Regions from separate parts of the Homo sapiens genome. Here region 2 is linked to region 1. Evidence: fine-mapped expression QTL. A gene starts in region 1. The other region holds a variant in brackets. All regions are shown on one strand. Distances are from middle to middle.

The links. PIP is the estimated chance that this variant, and not a neighbour inherited with it, causes the effect.
Region 2: its variant is the best candidate, but not a certain one, in a credible set for the expression of THEM6 in whole blood (INTERVAL, PIP 0.88).

The regions. Positions count from the first base shown.
Region 1 is chr8:142,725,052-142,729,308 of GRCh38, reverse strand. It overlaps THEM6 (thioesterase superfamily member 6), which reads right to left and starts at 2,086. Exons shown (of 2, transcript NM_016647.3): 1 at 1,450-2,086. The coding sequence starts at 1,962. It overlaps LNCOC1 (lncRNA associated with ovarian cancer 1), which reads left to right and starts at 2,336. Exons shown (of 3, transcript NR_038925.1): 1 at 2,336-2,587. RefSeq lists silencers at 1,341-1,590, 1,891-2,330 and an enhancer at 2,361-2,580.
Region 2 is chr8:142,760,743-142,765,248 of GRCh38, reverse strand. It overlaps LYNX1-SLURP2 (LYNX1-SLURP2 readthrough), which reads left to right. Exons shown (of 5, transcript NM_023946.5): 4 at 109-213; 5 at 508-911. The coding sequence ends at 644. It overlaps SLURP2 (secreted LY6/PLAUR domain containing 2), which reads left to right. Exons shown (of 3, transcript NM_177458.3): 2 at 109-213; 3 at 508-911. The coding sequence ends at 644. SLURP2-AS1 (SLURP2 antisense RNA 1) reads right to left here and starts at 2,184. Exons shown (of 2, transcript XR_007061134.1): 1 at 1,754-2,184. The variant C/T (reference allele first, on the strand shown) is at 2,637.

The sequences.
Region 1 (4,257 bases):
GGCCTTGCTGAGGAAATTAAATTTATGTTCACGTGCTATTTCTTTACGGCACCGGGGAACAAGCGTTTCAAACACAGTTAAGGGAACAAATTAATAATGTTTACTAAAGAGACCCAGACTTGGGAGTGTCCAGATATCCCGATGTCTGGAGAACAAAGGCATTCCTGATTTTGAAACCCCGTCTCTACTAAAAATACAAAAAATTAGCCGGGCGTGGTGGCTGGCGCCGTAGTCCCAGCTAGTGGGGAGGCTGAAGCAGGAGAATGGCGTGAACCCGGAAGGCGGAGGTTGCAGTGAGCCGAGATCACGCCACTGCACTCCAGCCTGGGCGACAGAGTGAGAATCCGTCTGAAAAAAAAAAAAAAAAAAAAGAAAATAGTAATATTGATTCTTGCAAAATATAGTAATTAAGAAAATTACTCCTTTATCACAAACCCTTGTAGCAGATCACATCTCCCCATATATACAAGCATTGCACCTAGGGTGGACGCGTTCCTCCTCTTACAGGAACATGCTACTGGGTCTACGGACCAGCTATTCTTTCACCGCTTTACCTTAATAAACTTGCTTTCACTGTGCGCTGCAGACTCGCCCTGAGTTCTTTCTTACACAAGATCCAAGAACCCTCCCTTGAGGTCTGGATCTGAATCCCTTTCCTGTAACATCAGGACTGAGATGAGACGTTGACCCTCGTCTGCTCGGGAGGCACCTGTCCGAGACCGGAGAGGGCAGTGCCCTAAGGGCACACCAGGGGTGCACAGGCCCTGGCTTCCTGCACGGACGCTCCAGGCAACTTTTCTGGCAACTGGTCTGGCCACATCGGCCTGGTGGCCGTCCCCAGGGCCCCAGGTGCCATGCTGCAGGGGCGGTTCTGCCCTGCTGGGAGGAGCGAGCCCTGGGAGGTGCATGGCCCTCCTCTCTCCAACTGCAGAAAGGCCAGAAGGCTTTCAGCTACTCGGCTCAATACCTCAACCCCAAACCCAGGTGACCAGAACCCAGCCCTTCAGCTCTAAGCTGTGTGAAAGGGGGGCTCAGGTCCTCGGGAACTCCTAGGAACCTCTTCTAACTGATCACCTCTCCAACCTATATTCAGGACCAAGGACCAGAGAGGTCAACACTCCAGCCACAGAACAGAGTACCAGGAGAGAGGAGAGGGGTGAACACGAAACCGTGAGGGGCCAGGTTAAGAAATGGCAGGAGGGAAGCACGCTAAGCCCGACTATGAAGAGTTGATTCGGGGACCCTAGGAACCCCCACGAACAAAGGCATCAGTGAGGAATGCCCCCGGTAGAGAGGGAGGGGCGGGAGCGGTAAGAGGCAGGACTCCAGCAGTATCCGAAAGAGGTGCAGGCAGCGGGCCTTCCCTAGGGGAGGGGGCCAGGGACTAGGAGGAGCCCCCGGAGGTCCCACAAAGGCCGTGCTCCGGGGCCAGGGGCGGGGGCCGCTCACCCTGCGCTGGCACAGGTGCTGCACGACGCGCTCGGGTGAGGTGCCCAGCAGGTGCTGCCGGAAGCGCAGCAGCGCGCACACGAAGCCGTCCCGCAGGCTGACAAAGCGCGCCTCCAGGTAGAACGCGCGGTCGTCCCAGCCCAGCAGGCGGGTGCGCACCTCGAAGGGCTCCAGCAGGCGCAGCGAGCGGCGGTGGCGCGCGCACGAGGCCGCCAGCACCGTGTGCGCCCGCAACTCCCTCAGCGCCCCGAGCACCCCGCAGCGGGTCAGGTGCGCGACGCGCGCAAAGTCGGCCTCGCGCAGGTAGCGCGCGTTGTTCATGTGCAGCAGCAGGTCCAAGTCCGAGGGCAGCACGCGGCCCGGGAAGCGCTGCTCAGCTAGCAGGTCACGGACGCGCGGCTGCAGCAGGCGCGCGCGCAGCACGGCGCACGGAAGGCGCACCAGGTACCAGACGTCCAGCAGCGCAAAGACAGCGAGCCCCAGGGCCAGCAACGCCACCAGCAGCCCCAGCATAGCGGCGGCGGCGGGCGCGGGGTCCTGCGGAGTCCGTGGCGCCGGTGCCGGTGTCCGCGGCGCTGGTTACGGTGCCCGCCAGGCCTCCTGGGAACTCACGAGCGCAGCGCGCCCGGAGCGAACCACAGCGCGAGGGCGGCCGAGGGGGAGGGGCCCGGAGCCCCGCCCACCGTGGCGCGACCTTCTCAGCGCCCTACGTGGTCCGTCCCGCCGTCCAGGCCCGCGCCACTTTCGCGTTCCCTGGGGCGGGGCGGGCGGCGCGCTGAGCGCCACAGCGGCACCTGGCGGCCGTGCGCGGCGCTGCAGGCGCGAGGGTGCACGCGCGCCCCGGCGTCTCCGCCTTCCCAGCAGCGCGAGACCCTCGCCAGGCTCTGAAGACGCGGCCTGGCCCTGGCCGTTCGGCCCTTCGTCTGAGCGCAAAGGCTCCAGCACCTCCGCGGCCGAAGCCGCGGGACTTTTCGTGGAAAATGGGACCCAGCCCGATCGCCAGCGGCGCTGCAGCGGACTCTGCGGGAACCTAGCTTCTGCTCCAGGACCTCCAGGGCCACCCCAGCTCGCAGGGCGTTCGCAGCGGCTCAGGGCGAATCACGCTCATGGTCCCCGTGCGCATTTTCAGCCCCAGCCGGTACCTCCTTACTCGCCCTCACGACATTCATTCCACCCCCTAAAGGTCCTGCCAACCCCAGGCTCTTCCCGAGCATTCCCGCCCTTCCTCCCTTTTGAAACCGGAGCAAATCACGGCCGGGCGGAAGCGGGGGAGCCCGGGTGAGAGTCAGTGACTCAGCTGCGGACTCCAAGTGTCGCCGGAGGCCCTGGGGCGCAGGCCCAGCGGGCTGTCGCACAGCTCGGCTGTCCTGTGCCCCTTCCTGACGAGGCTGGGGAGGAAAGGCGGCCCAGAGAAGGCCGGACCAGCTCTCCCCGTCAGCCCCAGGCTCTCGAATGACAGCGGATGCCAGCGACCGGGGATGGGGTCCCGGAATTGCTGGGTTAAACAAGCTCCGGATTCAGGCCTGGGCCTGGGCTGGGGTTCCAGGGTTCTGGACCGCCCTCAAAGAAGGAGCTCCCTGGGGCGGCACCTGGCTCTGCTTGATAGCCCCAGGGACAGGGAGCTCACTACCTATCAGGGCAGCTCCCCCAGTGCCGAGACCAGCTCGGTCCTGGAGACCCTAACCCAGCGGTGCTAGAGGAATTAAAGATACACACAGAAATATAGAGGTGTGGAGTGGGAAATCAGGCGTCTCACAGCCTTCAGAGCTGAGAGCCTCCAACAGAGATTTACCCACGTGTTTATTCACAGCAAGCCAGTGATAAGCACAGTTTCTACAGATTATAGATTAAAAGTACCCCTTAGGGAAACAAAGGGATGGGCCAAAATAAAGGGGTGGGTTTGGCTAGTTATCTGCAGCAGGGGCATGTCCTTAAGTCACAGATGGCTCATGCTATTGTTTGTGGTTTAAGAACGCCTTTAAGCGGTTTTCTGCCCTGGGTGGGCCAGGTGTTCCTTGCCCTTATTCCGGTAAACCCACAACCTCCCAGCGTGGGCATCATGGCCATCATGAACATGTTACAGTGCTGCAGAGATTTTGTTTATGGCCAGATTTTGGGGGCCTATTCCCAACACCCTAGCATTGCTCACACTTGTCCCTGAAGTGTCACCTTGTCGTAGCTGGGCTCTGAGCCCTCTGCCCCAGGGAGGGGTGGCCTTTTGGGCTGAAGGGACTGAGGACATAGCCGTTGAGCCTGTTGGCCATTGCTCAAAGAATGCAGCCTCCTGGTCACCCATGTTGTCCCCTTGCCAACAAAAAGAGTGAAACACTGTGCAATGTTTGAAGAGATTTATTCTGAGCCAAATCTAAGTGACTGTGGCCTGTCACACGGCCTCAGAAGATCCTGAGAACTTGTACCCAGAGTGGTCAGCCTGCAACTGGGTTTTACAAATTTTAGGGAGACATAAGACATCAATGAATACTTGCAGGATGGACATTGGTTTGGTCCAGAAAGGTGGGGACAACTGGAAGTGACAGAGGGACTTCTAGGTCATAGGCAGATTCAAAGATTTTCTGATTGGCAATTGATTGAAAGAGTTAAGTTGACCGGGCATGGTGGGCCATTTCTATAATCCTTGCCATGGGGAGGCTGAGGACCATTTGAGCCCAGGAGTTAGATACCAGCTTGGGCAACATAGAGAGACCTCACTTCTCCAAAAAAAAAAAAAAAAAAAAAGTTATTTTTTAAAGACTTAGCATTAATAGAAAGGAATGTCTGGTTAAGATAAGGGGTCGTGGAGACCAGTGT
Region 2 (4,506 bases), 36 kb before region 1:
AGAAGGAGCATGGGCTGCTGGGTGGAGATGAGTGCGTGCCGTCACTGCAGAAGGTGGCCCACACCTGCCTCCCATCCGTTTGTGTCCTGTCTGTCCCCATGTCCGCAGCTGCAGCCGAAGCCATATGGTGTCACCAGTGCACGGGCTTCGGAGGGTGCTCCCATGGATCCAGATGCCTGAGGGACTCCACCCACTGTGTCACCACTGCCACCCGTAAGTGGGAACAGTGGTGGGCTGGCCACGTCCTTCTTGCCCAGGTGGGAAGATGTGGGCTCAGAGGGTGACAGAGCCAGATCCAGGCACCCAGTAAGTCAGAAGCATAGTGGGGAGTGTCCGCCAGTGATGCCCAGGGAAGGGTATGAGCAAAGGGCCACGTCTGCCCCAGGAGGGCCCGTATGCTTCATGTACCTGGGGCGTCTGACCCTCAGCTCAGTGGCAGATGGGGCAGCAGGGTCTGGGCAAACCAGAGCCTCAGGGAGCTCCATGGTTTCTCTCCTGCCCACTCAGGGGTCCTCAGCAACACCGAGGATTTGCCTCTGGTCACCAAGATGTGCCACATAGGCTGCCCCGATATCCCCAGCCTGGGCCTGGGCCCCTACGTATCCATCGCTTGCTGCCAGACCAGCCTCTGCAACCATGACTGACGGCTGCCCTCCTCCAGGCCCCCGGACGCTCAGCCCCCACAGCCCCCACAGCCTGGCGCCAGGGCTCACAGCTGCCCCTCCCTCGAGACTGGCCAGCCCACCTCTCCCGGCCTCTGCAGCCACCGTCCAGCACCGCTTGTCCTAGGGAAGTCCTGCGTGGAGTCTTGCCTCAATCTGCTGCCGTCCAAGCCTGGGGCCCATCGTGCCTGCCGCCCCTTCAGGTCCCGACCTCCCCACAATAAAATGTGATTGGATCGTGTGGTACAAGCTATGCAGTGAGAGTGGAGTCCTGCCATCCTGGGCTTGGGAGTAGAGTGGAGTAGATTTGGGGGTGCCTCGCTCCCTCACCCCAGGCTAAACCCTACTACCCCACCCCCACTTGCCCTTATCACGGAACAGGCCCTCCCGCCTCCAGCCAACTGTCAGGCCTGAAGGGCACGGGGGCCCAGGCACCCCGGGCAGCTGCTTCTCCTGAAGCAGCTAGAGTGGGAGTTGGGGCTGGGGCACATGAGGAGCCCTCCACCCCAGAGCGTGAGTTGGGAAACCTCAGAAAAAGGACACCCCGGCTGAGACATGGAGGCTGTGCGGGGTGGAGGAAGGGAGGAGGTGCCATTGGCAAAGACGGCTGCAGCAGGCCTTCTGGAATAGGGAGAAGAGTGAGGCGGCATCCTCACCCTCGCCCTCATACATGCCCCTGGGCCAGTGGCCCGGCCTGCCCCTCTCTAGGAAACCCCCAGTTCTGGCAGGGAACACCACCTCCAGCTCCTCTGGGCCACTGGGTACCCAGCACACAAGGCAGGGTGCTGGGGAGAGATGCTGGGAGTGGGATGAATCAGACTGAGGTGATGGGCAGCTGTGGCCACCCATCTCAGGGTGGACATGGAAACTAGGTAAGTGATGTTTGTGGAAGTTGATCACTCCCTAGGCAACATTGCGTCATGGCCGAGCTTCGGGCTGCAAGGTTGAATGAGACCCCCACATAAGCCTGGCACTCCCCTCGGAGAGGCCGAGGTGAGTCAATACCTGCAGCACCCAGATCCCCCCGACTGAGTTAGCACCTGCCAAGAAACACACCGCCAGGCCCTTTCCTTGGCCTTTCTTGTTCTCACCTTGGCAACGTTCTCATGAAGAATCAGCACAGGAGAAAGCTGATGCAATTGTTAAGCTGCTCCACAAGGAGGGGGTGTCTCAGGCAGGGCCGCCGGACACTCAGGTGCAGGACAACTTTCAGAGTAGCCCCGGGCACAGAAGAAGACATAAACAGGGTGCGCTGGAGATACCCAGATAAGCTCAAGAATTGAGGTGACAATGGAGCACTTCTCAGATCTGCAGGAGAGGGACAGGGCTCACTGGCAGCCGCCGTGGAGCACTGTGGAGAGAACAGGATAAGGCTGGATCATCACCTCTCTCGCTACAGCCAAAGGCATGCCAACTGAATGAGAGGTTTCGATGTAAAAAGAGGAGGTTTTTTAATGCTAGATAATTCAGAATAGAAAAGCAAGACACGTTCCTGAAAGGATTGGACAGAGTTGCTGTAAACACAGCAATTCCACCCCCGCCCCCCCACCTGGTCCAAATTCCACCCCCAGGCCAAATTCCACGCCCAGGCATGGCCCAAGAAGAGTAAACACGAGTCCACACAAAAGCCTGTGCACAAACATTCACAGTGGCATTATTCATAGCAGACAAAAGGCGGGAAAAACCCAAATGCCCATCAACTGATGGAGGGATCACAGAGATGACAGACCCACACCACAGAATGTTATTCAGCCACATAAAGGAATGAAGCCCCGACCCACGCCAAAACACGGGAGAGCCTTGAAAACACGCGGGGGGTGCTTGAAAACACGATGCTAAGTGAGACAGAAGCCGCGCACAACAGGCCAAGCAGTGTACAGTTCTATTTCTCAGAAGTGGCCGGAATAGGGAGCTCTATAGGGAGGAAAAGGAGATGAGTGGTTGCTAGGTGGTGGCAGGGATTATTAAGAAATA[C/T]GGAAAGGCCGGGTGTGGCGGCTCACGCCTGTATTCCCAGCACACTGGGAGGCCGAGGAGGGTGGATCACCTGAGGTCAGGAGTTTGAGACCAGCCTGAGCAACATGGTGAGACTCCGTTTCTACTAAAAATACAAAAATTAGCCAGGTGTGGTGGCGCATGCCCGTAATCCCAGCCACTTGGGAGGCTGAGGCACGAGAATCACTTGAACCAGGGAGGCGGAGGTTGCAGTGAGCTAAGATGGTGCCACTGCACTCCAGCCTGGGCAAAGGAGCGAGACTCCATCTTAAAAAGCAAACAAACAAACAAACAAAAAGAAATAGGGAAAAGCCAGAGTACTTTTCCTGCTCTCACACAATACAGTACTTCACCCCATCACCAAAGTGTGTGTATTTCTCTCCACCAGCAACCAAGCCACACTGCCGTGGACACCAACTGGATGTCCTCAATTCAATTCCGACACCATTCCTGTGGCGGTCACGTCAGATCCCGCAGGTGGAGGGCTCAGTGCCACGCAGTGAGCCCCACTTCCAATGCCAGTCGCAAGCCCCAGGTGTGGCCCGTGCTTCTGACCAACCTGCCATGAATCAGGGTTCCCACAACCCCCTCCTCGGGTTTGATGACTTGCTGGAGCGGCTCATAGAACTCAGGGACACACTGAGCCGCGTTTACCCATTTATGACACAGGCTGTGACGAAGGTGTGGACGCACAGCAGGTGGGGGAGACGCGTGGGGCAGGCACAGGGAGGGGCTCAGAGCTTCCAGGCCCTCCCAGTGCCACCCCCAGACACCTGCGCATGTTCTGCTCTCGGAGGCTCCCTGAGCCCTGTCCTTTTGGGAAATTTACAGAGGCTTCATTACGTAGGCATGATGGATTAAACTACTGGCCACTGACCAACCCAACCTGCAGCCCCTCCCCTCCCCTGAAGGCTGGGGGTGGGGCTGAAGTCCCAGCTCTCTAATCCCGTTGTCCCTCATCCTGAAGCTCCCTGGGGACCCCCAGTCACCAGTCCTCTCATTAGCATACAAAAGATGCCCTTGCCACTCCAGAGATTCCAAGGGTTTTAAGAGCTGTATGTCAGGAAACCAAAATATCCATCTCACAATCTCACAAAATAAGCAATGTCAGAAAACCAAAATATCCATCTCACAATCTCACAAAATAACCACTTCACGTTCTCACAGTGAATGGAGCAAAGATAGCGCTGAAGCGTTCAAGGTTTCTTTTCAAGATGATGAAAATGGGCTAAAACTGCGAATATGGTAAAAACCACTGAGTTACCCACTGTAAACGGGTGGATTGTATGGTGCGTGAGAAACCACTGAATTACCCACTGTAAATGGGTGGATTGTATGCTGTGTGAGAAACCACTGAATTAGCCACTGTAAACGGGTGGATTGTATGGTGCGTGAGAAACCACTGAATTAGCCACTGTAAACGGGTGGATTGTATGGTGCGTGAGAAACCACTGAATTACCCACTGTAAACGGGTGGATTGTATGGTGCGTGAGAAACCACTGAATTACCCACTGTAAACGGGTGGATTGTATGCTGCATGACAAACCACTGAATTACCCACTGTAAACGGGTGGATTGTATGGTGCGTGAGAAACCACTGAATTAGCCACTGTAAACGGGTGGATTGTATGGTGCGTGAGAAACCACTGAATTACCCACTGTAAACGGGTGGATTGTATGGTGCGTGAGAAACCACTGAATTACCCACTGTAAACGGGTGGATTGTATGCTGCATGACAAACCACTGAATTACCCACTGTAAACGGGTGGATTGTATGGTGCGTGAGAAACCACTGAATTAGCCACTGTAAACGGGTGGATTGTATGGTGCGTGAGAAACCACTGAATTAC